Linked DNA regions of Homo sapiens: region 1 is linked to region 2. A link means that fine-mapping ties the variant in region 2 to the expression of a gene that starts in the linked region. Tissue or cell type: esophagus muscle. Region 2 holds a variant in brackets; the other region holds the start of a gene. All regions are shown on one strand. Distances are from middle to middle.

What was found. PIP is the estimated chance that this variant, and not a neighbour inherited with it, causes the effect.
Region 1: ZDHHC14 starts here. The variant in region 2 is fine-mapped to the expression of ZDHHC14 in esophagus muscle (GTEx, PIP 0.92).

The regions. Positions count from the first base shown.
Region 1 is chr6:157,377,006-157,384,337 of GRCh38, forward strand. It overlaps ZDHHC14 (zDHHC palmitoyltransferase 14), which reads left to right and starts at 4,185. Exons shown (of 9, transcript NM_024630.3): 1 at 4,185-5,261. The coding sequence starts at 5,017. It overlaps LOC124901446, which reads right to left and starts at 4,086. Exons shown (of 1, transcript XM_047419644.1): 1 at 2,309-4,086. The coding sequence starts at 3,696. The coding sequence ends at 2,806. RefSeq lists enhancers at 2,509-3,121, 3,733-4,344, 5,103-5,242 and silencers at 3,323-3,402, 3,563-4,452, 4,963-5,012.
Region 2 is chr6:157,599,319-157,606,650 of GRCh38, forward strand. All of the region lies in intron 3 of ZDHHC14 (zDHHC palmitoyltransferase 14), which reads left to right. Among named protein-coding and RNA genes, the nearest start is that of MIR3692, 74 kb to the left of the region's middle. The variant A/G (reference allele first, on the strand shown) is at 2,989.

The sequences.
Region 1 (7,332 bases), 220 kb before region 2:
AAAAAGAAAGTGACGTACAGAAAGCGGAAATGAGGTACGGAAACAGCCAGATGGTTACAGCTCAGCATTTGTCTTATTTGAACATGGTTTGAACAGCTGGCCACAATTGAGTGGCCAAAACTCAGTAATTGACACCCGAGTAGATCACACTCTGTTTACACTTCCATTTAGGCTACAGTTCAGTGTACAGAGAAACCTTTAGGCCAAACTTAAAATATGTAAAGAGGCAGTATTAGGCTAAACCCCATTTAGCAAAAGTAGATCATGCACTCTTTCAATTCAATTCAAGACTCATTTTTGGATTATTTGTTATTGGCGAGGCATTCTCAAGGAATTTTTAGCAGGTCTTTTGACTTTTCAGTGTCCTTGTTTGAGAAATACAAGTTTTGGTCTCTAATTCTAGATACGCTGACGTCCCTCTAGCATTAAAGTTTGGAATCTATACATTCCTGGAGGGCAAGGACGGTGATTTTTCTTTCAGACCCCTCAACACTTACACCGATGGTGGGTACAGAGTGTGGCATACAGAATTGATGCTGGTGCACACAGAATGAATTCCTGTTCCTTTTTCCCTCTCTCCCTGGCCCTCGCTCCACTCCAGCCAGACTGGTTTTTCTTTGTACCCCTAGAATTTTCCAGGTTGTTCTGCCTTGAGGACTTGGTACTTGCCCCTTCCCATCATTCGATTCTCTGCCCGACCCCAGTCTCTCCATCCCATAACCCTGCTTTGTTTTTTCGTTCTTGTAATTACTCTCTGAAATTGTCTTACTAGTCATTTATTTATTTGTTTATTCTCTCCACCTCTCCCCCAGTCCCCAAATATAAGCTTCTATCTTGGATCTTTTTGTATCACTGCTGCTAAAACAGTACTTAGCACAATCTAGGCCCTGAAATAGATAACTGTAAAATAAATGAATAAACTCTACCATCCCTTATACAGTAGGTTTTACAGTCATCCCTCAGTATCCTCAGGAGATTGGTTCCAGGATCACCTGCGTATACCTGAATCTGCACATATTCAGGTCCTTAAACAGGCTCCACAGAACCTGCATATAGGAAGAGTGGGCCTTTGCCCTCTGAATACTCGCATTTCCCATCCCACGGATGCTGTATTTTCCATCTGCATTTGGTTGAAAAAAATCCGTGTCTAAGGGCATCCACGCTGTTCAAACCCATATTGTTCAAGATCAACTGTAGCTGGTGAGGTGAACTCTGCAGCTATCACACACCAGGTTCTAGTGAACGCTCTTAGGGGAGGGTAACCCATACAAGTGAATTAACCGCAGAGGTCTTAGTACACATGGAGTGGGAAGAAAAAAGTTATCCCCTGGAAGACAACTACAGACAATTGTATCAGCTATTTAGAAATCATATCAGCATATCTTATTTGCTGTGGAAACTTTAGGTAACATTTTAAAACGAATTCATTTCTTTTTATTATGGAAAATGTCAAACATAAACATGAGTAGATGTGGTAGGTAAGAAAAGCATAATGGACTCTCATGTACACTGTGGTGGATGCACTCCGGGGTGTCCCTCACCCTAGGGTTCATGCCCTGTGTACTCCTCTCCCTTTGAGTGTGTGCAAAACATGCTTTCTGGCCAACAGAATGTTCACATTTGAAGTTGCCCCCGTGGGATTGCTTTATGTTATATAAAATTCTGTCTTGCTGGAGACTCACTCTGGGGACTCTCCTTGCAGGCCTGACAAAATAAGTGGCTGTGCTCGGAAAGCCCAAGTGACAATGAAGTCCAGGTAACCTCTAGGAATTGCAGGTTCCCTCTTGGAGCTGAGGACAGTCTCCAGTCTCCAGCCAGCAAGAAGCCAGGGCCCTCGGTCCTACTGCTGCAAGGAAAGGAATTTTGCCTGTGCCCGGAGTCAGAGTGGAAGCCAGTTCTTCTCCAGTGAATGTGAACGCAGCCTGGCCAGCCCCTTGATGGCAGGCGTGAGACCCTAAGTGGGGGACTGAGTGTACCTGGACACCTGATCCATAAAAACTGTGAGAAAAATCTGTCTTGTTTTAAGGCCACTACGTTTGTGGCAATTTGCAGCAATAAATAATTAAGTACAAGTACATGTCACCCAAGGTCAACTATTTTCAACAGTTTCCAATTGTTTCATTTATACCTCCATGTCTGGAGCTGGGTGGGTGGGAGGAGGGGAGTGGATGGGCTGGTGTGTTTTAAAGCACATTTCAGACTTTATATTATTTCGCTGGCAGATACTTTAGTACATATCTCTAACAGACAAGGAAGGACTTTTTAAAAGCATAACCATAATGCCAGAAAAATTCGGTTTCATTGAGAATAAGAGTGGGAGTCTTTTTTAATGCCATCAAATCAATGGATCTATTATATTAATTGGACACCCACAGAAAAGGTGCTTGCAATAAACAGAATAAGAATAATACCCCGTTGATCTCATTAGCTAAAGGACAGGAAAGCATATGAGAGCTTTCACTTGAAATGTATGAAGCTTTCCAGTTGGTTTTTTAAAACTAGTCCAGCCACAAATACTTAATTGTCCCTGTAATATGCTTGTCTCTCATACAATATCTAAAATAATTAAAACCCAATTATTATCGTGTGCTTAAGATCCATTCTCCCTAGACTCTAACCGGCTTTGGAATGGACCCCTGTAAATTTCACTTGTATTCAAAACTCCTTGTAATTGCATGTCATACTCTAATTGCTATTCCCATCACTTTTTCCTTACCACAGCTCCTCCCAACTGGCCCTCTTGGATAAGCCAATCTCATCCCCCTTCGACACTCCTCACTGAGGCACGCTTTGTAAGGGACATACTTAGGGCTCTGGGTTCGATGCCATCTCTACTACTTGGGAGCTTTGTGATGTTTGGCCAGTAGTTAAGCTTTCTCTAAGCTGGATACAATAATGCCTCACCGGGTTCCGGCGAAGATTAGACAAAGAACATGTGTAACGTGCAAACTGCCCAGTACAGAGAAGGCACCGTTCCCCACAACCCCCTTTGTTGGTTCCCATCTCCCACCACCTAGCCCCAGAACGCCCAGCACCACGCCTCTCCTGCCCTTGTCGCGGGGGATGCAGGGACTTGTAGTTTCTAAGGCCCCGAGTCGTGCTTCTCCTCGGCGCAGGCCTGCGGGCGGAAGAACTACACATCCCAGTGGGCTGTGAAAGGAAAGTGGGGCTCGGGAAATTGAGCATCCCTGCCCAGCTGCCTTCGTTTTCTGCGGCCCCGGGGCTATGCCCACCTCTGCGGGGGCTCGGACCCGCGGCAACGCCTGGGAGGGCGCGAGCGAGCAGAAGCCCCAGGCTCCGGCCGTCCCAGGGCCGCGCCCGCAGCTCCTCCTGGGCTGTCGGGTGGGAAGGGGGGAGGCGCAGGCGGGAGAGGAGAAGCACGCGACCCCTCCGCTGCCGAGGGGGCTCCACGGGGGAATGGAGGGAGAAATAAAGCGAGCAGCTGTAAACGTCCGTGGGGAGAAGTGGAGACCGAAAGAGCTGGGCGGCAGCAACCCAAAACCTGGCCTCCAAGGGCTTATACTCCGGGAGGGAGGCCGGGGCCGGAGGGGACCCTGACCGCTTCCTCTGCCCTTCTTTCTCGGCCCGGAAGCCGGCCGAGCCGGGCCCCGAGACCCTCGCCCGCAGCCCGGTCCCGAAGTCAGGCCGGCCTAGGGCCGCCCCACCCCATCCTGGCACCCGGCACCCCCAGCCCATTTCTCGGGCATCACCAGAGTCCCCGGGCGACGCGACCACGCGCCCAGCTGGGGAGGAGGAAGAAGGGAGGCGCAGGCCGGGGAGGGTCACCTCCGCGCCGCGGCTCCTCAGGTCCCGGGGAGTCGCCAGGAGTGGCTTGCCGGTGGCCGTGGGAATGAGCGTGTCCCGAGGCGGCAGCTGCTGCGCGGGATAAACCCGGAAGAAGCCGCGAGACGGACTGAAGTCGGCCAGGAGCGCACTGCGCGGCGGGGCCGCGGGCGCCCGACCCCATCCCTACTTGGGCGATGCCACAGGGAGCCCCGCGCCTTCCACACCCCAGGGCGCCCGCCCGAGGGGGCTGGGGCTGGAATCTCGCTGCGCCGGTGCCCTGGCTTCGCGGGCGAGGAGGAGGAGGAGCAGGAGGAGGAGCCGCGGGTGAGGCGCGAGGCCACCGCCCACCCGGCCCGGAGGAGGCGGACCCACTCGGAGCGCCGCGCGCGCGCCGGGCTGAGCCTTGCAAACAAGTGTCTGTGCTGTGTCCCCGCGGCCCTCCTCGCGCCGGGGCCGCTTCCTCCGGGTAGGAGGGAGCAAGGGAGCCCTCGCCGCGCGGCCCGCGAGCCGCCGCCGCCCTCGGCCCGCGCATCCCCGCGCGGGGGCCGCGGATTCGACTAGGCTGCCAGGCGCAGCGACACCGGGTCGCGGTGCGAGCGGCGCCCCGGCTCTCGCCGAGAGGCTCCTGACAGAAAAACGTGCGTGGTTGTCCCCACCCCTGGGAGGGGTTGCCGGTGCCGCGCGCGGCCGCCCAGTCGCCAGCGCTCTCTCCTGGGAGGATCCGCTGCCGGAGGAAGGAGTGGACCCAACCTGGCCGCGCCGCAGAAGTGGCTCCCGAGGAAGCCGGCGCCGGGGCCGCCGCCTCGTGTCCCCTCGGGGCGCAGTGCTCGGGGGTCGGCGGGCCAGAGCCGAGGCGCGGCCGGGGAGCCGGGGGCTGCGGGGCCGAGCGGGCAGCCGCGCGAGGGGGCGGGCGCTCGGCGACCCGGGGGCCGGCCGGGCTGAGCCCCGCGCCCCGGGACGCGGGCTGGAAGCGACGGAGGAGTGCTGCCGCGGGCTGCGGACCAGCGCCGTCCCCTCACGGAGCGGGGATTCTGCTATGACAGTTGGGCTCCCCGGAGGGTTAACCTGGGTGTCCTCGGCAAAGTTGTCGCCGAGCCGGGAGCCCGTGTAGGGGCCGCGGCGCCGCGGCTCGGGGGGCGGCCGGGCGGCCGGCGGCGGTCGTGGCTCGGCGGGGCCCGCGCGGCCGGGGGGCTCCTGGGGGTGTGCGCCCCCAGCCGGCTGCCCTCGTGGATGCCTCCCGGCGGCGGCGGGCCCATGAAAGACTGCGAGTACAGCCAGATCAGCACCCACAGCTCCTCCCCCATGGAGTCGCCCCACAAGAAGAAGAAAATCGCGGCCCGGAGGAAATGGGAGGTGTTCCCGGGAAGAAACAAGTTCTTCTGTAACGGGAGGATCATGATGGCCCGGCAGACGGGCGTCTTCTACCTGACGCTCGTCCTCATCCTGGTCACTAGCGGACTCTTCTTCGCCTTCGAGTAAGTGGTGGCGACCGCTCCCCCGACGCCGCACTCCCCTGGTCTCCCCTGTCCCCCGCCCCTCCTCGGGCTGCTTTCGTTTTCTAGAAGTCTTATCTACTGTAAATTGTTATATAATGCCAGTCTGCGCTCCCTCTTTTTTCTTTTAAAGGTCTGATTGCTTTTGGGCCCCCGGAAAGAACGCCGTTCTGGGCTGGGCTTCTGGGAGCAGGGAGGGAAGGGGTCCACTTGCAAGGGGGGCCAGGCCTTGCCAATCCAGGTGGCGGATGGGACCCAGCAGGTGGGGCCGCCGGTCCCTGATCCTTGGGGCGCTCTCTACCGAGTTTGGGGACCCAGCAAATCAGCCCAGATGTAGCCTGCCGTGGGAAGGTGGGGTGCGATAGATTCCTAAGTCAGGGATACATGGAACTGACTTTTTCCCCCTTGCTGACAACATATAGGGCATCTTCTTAAGCTCAGTTGACTGAATCTCCCATGTAACTTCGACGAATAATTGAGGAATCTTGGCTATTTCAGGTTTCAAAGTGTCGGCTGCCTAGTGTGCCCTGGATAGATCATTGCATTCTCCAGCCTCCTACATGCTCACTCTGGATTAACAATTTCTTATTTGCCATGAGGTTTCTAAACTCTTCACTTTCAAAAAGGTTGCAATAAAAGGTGTCCAAAACAAACAATTTGGGAACATGTGAAAGGAGACCTTAGGTCTGTTAAGGAAGAGGATGACACTACGTGACAACTTCCGATTCCAGAAACAGTCTGGACTTCAGGGATTATATCTGGGGGGATAAAAAGCGCATGCAAGTCTTCACCGTTTTCAGGAAAATCAAATTGGCCAGTAGCAACTGTCCTCCTGCCAACTAATGAAAGGTCTTCTTATTTATTAGCAGTGATTAGATAAAGCAGTTAAACCACATTCCAATCAATTTTGGTTGCTTTTTTTGCATCCAACATTTGGAATGCAACTCCTTATGTAATTTCTGGTATCCTATGTTCAATGAAAGGTGGAGTTACTTTTTTCCCCTCAGAATTTAAAGAAAGCAATATATTTATAGGGAGCTCTTCTTTGGGCTTCCCAAATCCTGGTTATTATTGGGCTTGATACTCCTTCAGTCTCCGCCTCCTCCTGTTGGGTAGGCTCAATTAAAACCTTTTGAATTTATTTACTTTTGTTTCTGATTAGGATTAATAGGCTCTAATTTTGTGCCTGGCTTTTGCTCTTCCAAATGCTGTCTCAATTGGAAATGAATGATCTCTTGACAACGTAATACTTGTCGCTCAAAGCCCTCTGACTCTCAGGAGAAACGTTTTGTATCTGGACACTGTGCGCTGATTAGCAGTTTTAAGAGGACTGAGTTAGACCAGGCGATGAGAAGGATCTCTGATTTAAGCGAATTCCCCTTCCCCAGTCCTTCTCACACACAACTCCTCTTCCCCATTTCCGATGGTATGTGCAGTTCCCGGGTCCCCCTTGATGTTTAGGTTCTGTGTCTGTTTGACACTAGTAGGTAGAGTCAGTGGGGAGACCTGTGGACGGGAGGGGAAGGGTGTGAACAGGCATTCAGAGTGGCAGGGAGACACACTCTACTCATGCTGCTGTTGCTCCCATGGGCCCCCATTGAGAGCAGCCTCTTGTCCTTACAGACCTTGGAAACTGGAAGAAGGGGCATAGAGGTTCCCCATGAGTTTACGTTATCTGTTAGGATGAACACTGGCACTGGAAGCGTGATGCCATGTGGTTTAACAGAAATGCCATCTCTCTAATGGTGAATTTAGTTACAGGTGGTCCTCTAGTTGCAGAGTATTAACTGTGTTCCTACAGTTTTTTAAAAAAAATCTTGAACAGATCCAAATTGGCACTTTTGCTCTTTTTAGCGATTTTAACTGTGGAGAAAATGGGTTAATTTTGTGATTCTGTTGCAGAGCTTCAGCCACAAGTGTGCTCCATGGAGGATGATGAATATTTCATTTTCTGTATATACCCAAGTCCCCACTGTATGCTTAGGGATCCCCCCAGTTATTACTTAACATCTTTTATTTTCTTCATTCAAACATAGCTTCTAACCAAACCATC
Region 2 (7,332 bases):
AGGCAAGTACCACAGGTAGGACGTTTGCGGCACCACCACTGAGTTCCCTCTGCTGCAGCTCTCGACGAAACTCTGACTGTCTTCAAAGACCACAACTCCGGATTCAGACACCTGGGTGGGAGCCCTTGGCCTGTTTTGTTTCCACGCCCAAGCAGACAGCCAGGCGAAGGTGGCGACTGCCCCACACTCAGCATCTATAATGAGGATGGGAGGATGGGGCCCTGCCTCCCACCTATTTTGGGGTTCTCCCCAAACAGGAAGTTTACTTTAATGGTGGATGGCCAATGAAATAAAATACTTTAAAAAGTCTAGTACAAAAAATAAACTGAACTTAGAAGCAAATAAATGAACAAAGCATCCATCTCCAGAAGGCAGAAAAAGAGCAGCAAATAAACTTAAGGGAAACCATAAGAAAACAATGACTTAGAAAACAGCAACCAATAGGTTGCCAAATCTAATTCTTTGGAGAACAACCAACCAAGGCATTAACGTCTGGTAAGACAAAGAAATTAACAAAGTGCAAGTAACAGATTCAAATGAAACAAATATAGGTGAGATGGTTTTCTATAATTATTGAGAAATATATTATTTTGCCGTTGTGTTAACTCTATGCCAATTGATTTGAAAAATCTCAGTGAAACATGATTGTATAGGAAAATGGGCCAAGGAGTGAGTAGAAAACTGGAATTGATTACTAGCCATGAAAAACTGAAAAGTTTTATGAAGAACCATGTGAGAAAGGTGCTGGGCCCAGACAGCTTACTTCCTATGTTCTGAGTAGTGTCTGAGAGCTTCGGAAAGGTTGAATGGTTTTTCAGTTCATTTCACCAAAATAGTATAACCCTAACACCAAAACCTTACAAAAATAACATGCAGAATAAAACCCCCACCCTTATTTATAAACATTACAACAAGCCAACGTGAAGACATAGCAAACTTAATCTACCAGTATAATAAAGAATTAGTCATGACATGGAAGGATGTATTCCAGGAATGTGATTTTTTAATGTTAATAAAACTATTAGTATATCAATAGGTCAAAAGATAAAAGGTATATGTGATCATGATAATAGATAATAAAAAGGGATTTGATAAAATGCGACATTTGTTTTGTATTTTTTGTGACAGTCTTGCTCTGTCACCCAGGCTGGAGTGCAGCTCACTGCAACCTCCGCCTCCCAGATTCAAGTGATTCTCCTGCCTCAGCCTCCCGAGTAGCTGGGATTACAGGTGTGCACCACCACGCCTGGCTAATTTTTGTGTTTTTAGTAAAGATGGGGTTTCATTATGTTGGCCAGGCTGGTCTTGAACTACTGACCTCAAGTGATTGGCCCACCTTGACATCCCAAAGTGTTGGGATTACAGGCGTGAGCCACCGCACCTGGCCAAGACATTCATTTGTAGCTATAGAACTCAGTGTATCCAGATTGGAAGGTGTGGTAGGCAGAATTCTGGCCCCCATGACTGCCCCTTCCCCTCACACCCCCCGGGTTGCTCCAATGGTTATGTCACGTTGCTTGGCAAAAGGGACTTTGTAGATGTCATAAAAGGTGACTAATCAGCTGACTTGAGAGAGTTTATCCTGGATTATCCAAGGGGCCCAGTGTAATTCCAAGAGCCCTCAAGAGCAGAGCTGGAGAGATGCCGCGCAGGAGGCCTGGGTGCCGTTTCGGAGCAGGATGGAAGGCGGTGAATCCCGCCTCCAGCATGGAGCTCGGGAGAGGCCCTGACTGCAGATGGAGAGGCTGCCCTGGCCGCAGCGCACGGGGCTCCTGACCCACAAAAATCGCGAGATAATGAGTTCATGTTGTTTGAAAGTCCGTCATTTCTGGTAATTTGCTATATAAAACTATTGCTATACGATTAAAAACTAATACAGAAGAATATTTCTTTAACATTATGTTAAAAAGGAAAAAAGCTAACATTTTCTTTATAGCAAAACACTGCCATGATTTACATTAAAATTAGGAACAAATTAGGATGTCTAGTATCATTACTAATATTTTACAATATCTTTTCTAATTAATGTGGTAATGTAGGAAAATAAACACAAATATATAACTATCAAAAAAGAAGAAACAAAATCACCATATTTTGTAGCTGACAAGAGCAATAATAACAGTACCAACAAACATTAGAACTAGTTTTTTTATGTTTAGTAGGTTTATCAGTTACCTAATAAATACATTAAAATAGCATACTATGTATCAGTTAGGAATTGTAATAAAAATCAAGACATGTACTCTCCACAAATTTATTTAAATTTAATGAATTATGAGTCGGGGGGCAAGATAAAATAGCTGTGAAATGTAATTAGAAGAATATACAAACAACAAACAATAACATTTCAAACCTAGAACGATGCAAGGAAACATGCACTATTTGATATTATGAGGTCCTGTGAAGTCCAAAGATGAGTTACAGAAAGTGACTTCAGGGCCCATGCACATGCTTTCTGTGTGTATGTGCATGTGTGTAAGTGATTTCTTCATTGCCCATTTTTGTATTTTCCACATCTCCAAAGTGACCATTAAAATGCACCATTCTTGGTAGGCAGCGTCTTCATTCTGGCTGGGGAAGGCAGAGATAAAGAATGCATTCAGGGCTGGGCGCGGTGGCTCACGCCTGTAATCCCAGCACTTTGGGAGGCCGAGGCGGGCAGATCACAAGGTCAAGAGATCAAGACCATCCTGGCCAATATGGTGAAACCGCGTCTCTACTAAAAATACAAAAATTGGCTGGGCATGGTAGCACACCCCTGTAATCCCAGCTACTAGGGAGGCTTAGGCAGGAGAATTGCTTGAACCCGGGAGGCTCGAGGTTGCAGTGAGCCAAGATTGTGCCACTGCACTCCAGCCTGGGGACAGAGCGAGATTCTGTCTCAAAAAAAAAAAAAAATGCATTCAGGCTGGTCATGGTGGCTTACGCCTGTAATCCCAGCACTTTGGGAGGTCAAGGTGGGCCAGTCACTTGAGGTCAGGTGTTCGA[A/G]ACCAGCCTGGCCAACATGGTGAAACCCCGTCTCTACTAAAAATCCAAAAATTAGCACCTGTAATCCCAGCTACTAGGAAGGCTGAGGCAGGAGAATCGCTTGAACCTGGGAGGCAGAGGTTGCAGTGAGCCGAGATGGCACCACTGCACTCCAGCCTGGGCAACAGAGCAAGACTCCGTTTCAAAAAAAAAAAAAAAAAAACGCATTCAGTGCCACCGGGAGCTGTGTGCAGGTTCTGGGAGAGCGCAGATTCCCCAGTTTGTCCCTATGCTGAGTTGCCAAGGCTAAATAGGAGTTACAGTGTATAGACTACCTGGGGTACTGAACGGTAGGACAGAAGCTCAGGGATGTTCAGGGCAGGCAGGGCATCCAGCCTGGCGGGGTGTGTGAAAGTGTCAGGAAGGCCGGGCTCCTGAGCATGCAGGGAGCTGCTTACTCTTCACCCGCCATGAGGATGCTTCCTCTGAGCTTTCTGGAGTGCTACGTACCCAGGCTGGGTTCTGCTGCTGCTGAGGGCACCAGCCCCTTCGTGCTAGCCTGTCAGTTTTGTCTTAGTGTCTGGAGTTTAGTCGTTTCTTTGTGGTTTAAGCAACAGGTCCTGTAACTAAACTTAAAAATCAATCAAACAATCTAATCCATGCTTTCGGGTCCAAGCCACCAGTCATGTCTGCACCCTTTGCTAGTCACTGAGCTCTCTGGAAAGTACCTGCACACCCCAGACCGTGGGGCCATCGTCCCCCTGGGTGTCTGAAGTGGATGTTGCCGTGGCTTACTGCAGGCTGGGACGTCCACAGTGCTTCATGGCAGTGCCAGGGCCCAGGGCTGGACATGGAGAGTCAGGTGAGGAATCCAGCCATCTCTGTGGAACGCTTTGTGAAGCAAGTGTTTACAATGAATCCAGAAGCACTTATGGAGTGGCTGCTATGTGCACGTAGAGGGCAAAGAAATTTCACACAGGTTCGTTCCCTGCCCTTAACGAGTTTTCCACGTAGTTATGAAAAGATAACTAACATCATAAAGAAGTACTTGACAAGGTCGTAGCACTCAGGATGGTCATTTTAGACCAATTCCCGTAAAGGGGAGAAATGAGAGAAAAGGCTGAAGAAATTAGCTGGCAGCCACACTGAGAGGCCCTTGGATGCCCATCTAGGAAAGAGGGACTTGACTCAGCTGCTGGAGCACGATGCTTGAACAGGAGATTGAGAGGGCTGGAATTCAGCCCTAGGAGGACTGATCTGGCATCCGAGTATAAAGTGAGCTGATGACAGGTAGTAGGCAGCTGTTGTCTGATGATGCCGTATTACAAGCACCCTCAAAAACCTCTGTGGCCCTTAACAAGCAGCATTTCTTTTTCTCGTGTGTCTGTGGGACATCTGGGGCAGCTCTGCGGATTAGGCAAGGCTCGGCCCCGGGCGTTGGTTCAGGTTCAGGTCTCCTCAAATGTTTTTCCAGGACCCAGGCTGAAGGGAGGGCAGCTACCTGTGGTACTTACTGGCCGCCATGGCCTAGAGCTGAGACATGCAGTATCCCTTACAACCTCTGCCTGTGGCGAAGACTCCATTGTCCAAGGAAGGCACACAACATGTCAGTGGGACAGGGAAGGGCACGCCACCTCAAGAGGGAGAGAAGTGAATACATTTGGCTCTCTGTATTCATGGGTTCCACATCCATGGATTCAACCAACCTCGAATCAAATATACTAAGAGAAAAAATTATGTCTGTACTGAATGGGTACAGGGGAGGCTGAGGCATGCAGATGGCTTGAGCCCAGGAGTTCAAGACCAGCCTGGGCAACATGGCAAAACTCCATCTCTACAAAAAATACAAAAATTAGCTAGGCGTGGTGGCGGGTGCCTGTAAGCCCAACTACCCAGGAGGCTGAGGCAGGTGGATCACCTGAACCAGGGAGATTGAGGCTACAGTGAACCTTGATCACGCCTCTGCGCTCCAGCCTGGGTGATGGAGTGAAAGCCTGTCTTAAAAAAAAAAAAAAAAAAAAGTAATCTAGAGTTGACCTGAAGGATACTGGAGGCTATGCATAGGCTATATGCAAACACTACTCCATTTCTTAGCAGGGATTTGAGCATCTGTGGGTTTCGATATCTGAGGGAGGTCCTGGAAGCAATCCCCCTTGGATACGGAGGGATGACTGTGTTTACTAGAACAATACAGCCTCTCACATGAGGGGAGACTTGAAGACCCAAGACCAGTTATTTTCTAAGAAGCAGTTGTGTATTTGTTACTCTTTTTTTTTTTTTGAGACGGATTCTTGCTCTGTTGCCCAGGCTGGAGTGCAGTGGCACGATCTCGGCTGCAACCTCCGCCTCCCGGGTTCAAGCAATTCTCCTGCCTCAGCCTCCAAAGTAGCTGGGACTACAGGCACGTGTCACCACACCCGGCTAATTTTTGTAATTTTAGTAGAGACGGTGTTTCACCATATTGGTCAGGCTGGTCTCGAACTCCTGACCTCAGGTGATCCACCTGCCTCGGCCTCCCAAAATGCTGGGATTACAGGTGTGAGCCACCATGCCCAGCCCTACACAGTGCCTTGCTAGGTGCGCAGTAATCTGTTGTTGACATGAGTTGCCCAGAATTGAAATTGGCTTCCAGCAATGGATATTGGAGTTAGGGAAGCAGAAGATGAAACATACCTTACCAGCCCTGAAGTTTCTTCTTCCAAGATATTTGTGGCTGTGTCAGCTGATCCAGCTGCTCTCTGTTGAGTGTTGGCAATAAACGTTTCACCAAATTCCACCCACTATTTGTAGGAGTTGGGCAGAACTGAGCTGTTAAAGCCTAGAAACTTTGATAGTGAATAATAACCCATGTGCCTTAGTTTTGAAAGCTTAATATGTGTTTGCACATTTTTTAAAAAAGAGCTATGAAATAATTTGGTTTGCTGGAACAGGTTAAGTTTTATTTTGTTTTAAAAAAGGTTGAAAAGTATTTTAAATAAAAGACTAATTGAAATGGAAAGATTATATTTTGGGAGAAGCAAGAAGAAAGTGTATTTTAAAATCCAGTAATGTGCCTTTGGAAATGTAATGATTATCTTTTTTTAATTAAATAAGTGAAATGAATACTTAGAAACTATTTGTACTAAGAGAGCTCTTCCATTTTCATAATACCATCCTTTATTTATGTATGGATTCTTACATTTGGAGGAAGTCTTCCCTGTGTTACCAAGCAATGGGCTGGAAAGTGTCACCCCCATTTGCTGTGGAACTCAGGTTCAGAGAGGGCAGAGACTTGACTCCGATCAGACAGCAAGGTAAGAACTGGAAGGCAGCCTCCCAGGCCCTGTGTGAAGGTTCATAACGGTTCATGGACTTAGAGCAGACAGACACTCAGTGGGCCTGAAAGCGGGCAAGCAGCAGGTGACAAGTCAGATTTTAACATGTGAGGAAGGCCATGACTTCTACCCCAGCCCAGCAGGAACGCTGTAGTATGTCCAACAATTGGTGTCAACCGTGAATGAGACTCTGCGTGGGCACAGCGGGTGGGGGGTAGGGGGCACGCAGGAGAGGAGAGGAGGATGAATCACATGTGGTCACCAGCCTATAAAGGCTTTTGAAGACTCCAGGAGGAGTAGAGAAGGTAACCATCTGTTATAACCCAGCTGAGCCCAGGCAAAGTCATAAATAAGCTCAACTTGCTAGTTCTTCCCCCAGGATTATCATGAAGTTAGCAAGATATATATGCTGAGTACTTTACGTGTTTAAAACTTCTGTCATATGTGTATATGAAGATCGCATTACTCTCCTGAAATTATACTACCTGCACATTTTAGTTTTCAGGATAACACAGGTCTCTATGCCTCAGACCGGGCATTTTCCCCTTCACGGTTCCCATGAGCCCCTTAAGATCTGAGGAGAGTCTGGAAGCGGTGGCTCATGCCTGTAATCCAAGCACTTTGGGAGGCCGAGGTGGGTGGATCAGCTGAGGTCAGGAGTTTGAGACTAGCCATGGCCAACATGGTAAAACCCTGTGTCTACTAAAAATACAAAAATTAGCTGGGCATGGTGGTGGCTGCCTGTAATCCCAGCTACTCTGGAGGCTGAGGCAGGAGAATTGCTTGAACCTGGGAGGTGGAGGTTACAGTGAGCAGAGATCGCGCCACTGCATTCCAACCTGGGGGACAAGAGCAAAACTCCATCTCAAAAAAAAGAAAAAAGAAAAATCTGAGGAGAGAGTTTAATGAGGTGAGCTGCATGCTTGGATTAGAAGATGCCAGAAGTATGATGGAATGCAGCAACTTGGATGGAAACGTCCAGTGGTCCGCCCCATGGCCTCGAGAGAATGAGTTCACCAAGAAGCCGGGTGGGTGATCAGTTGCTGTGAGG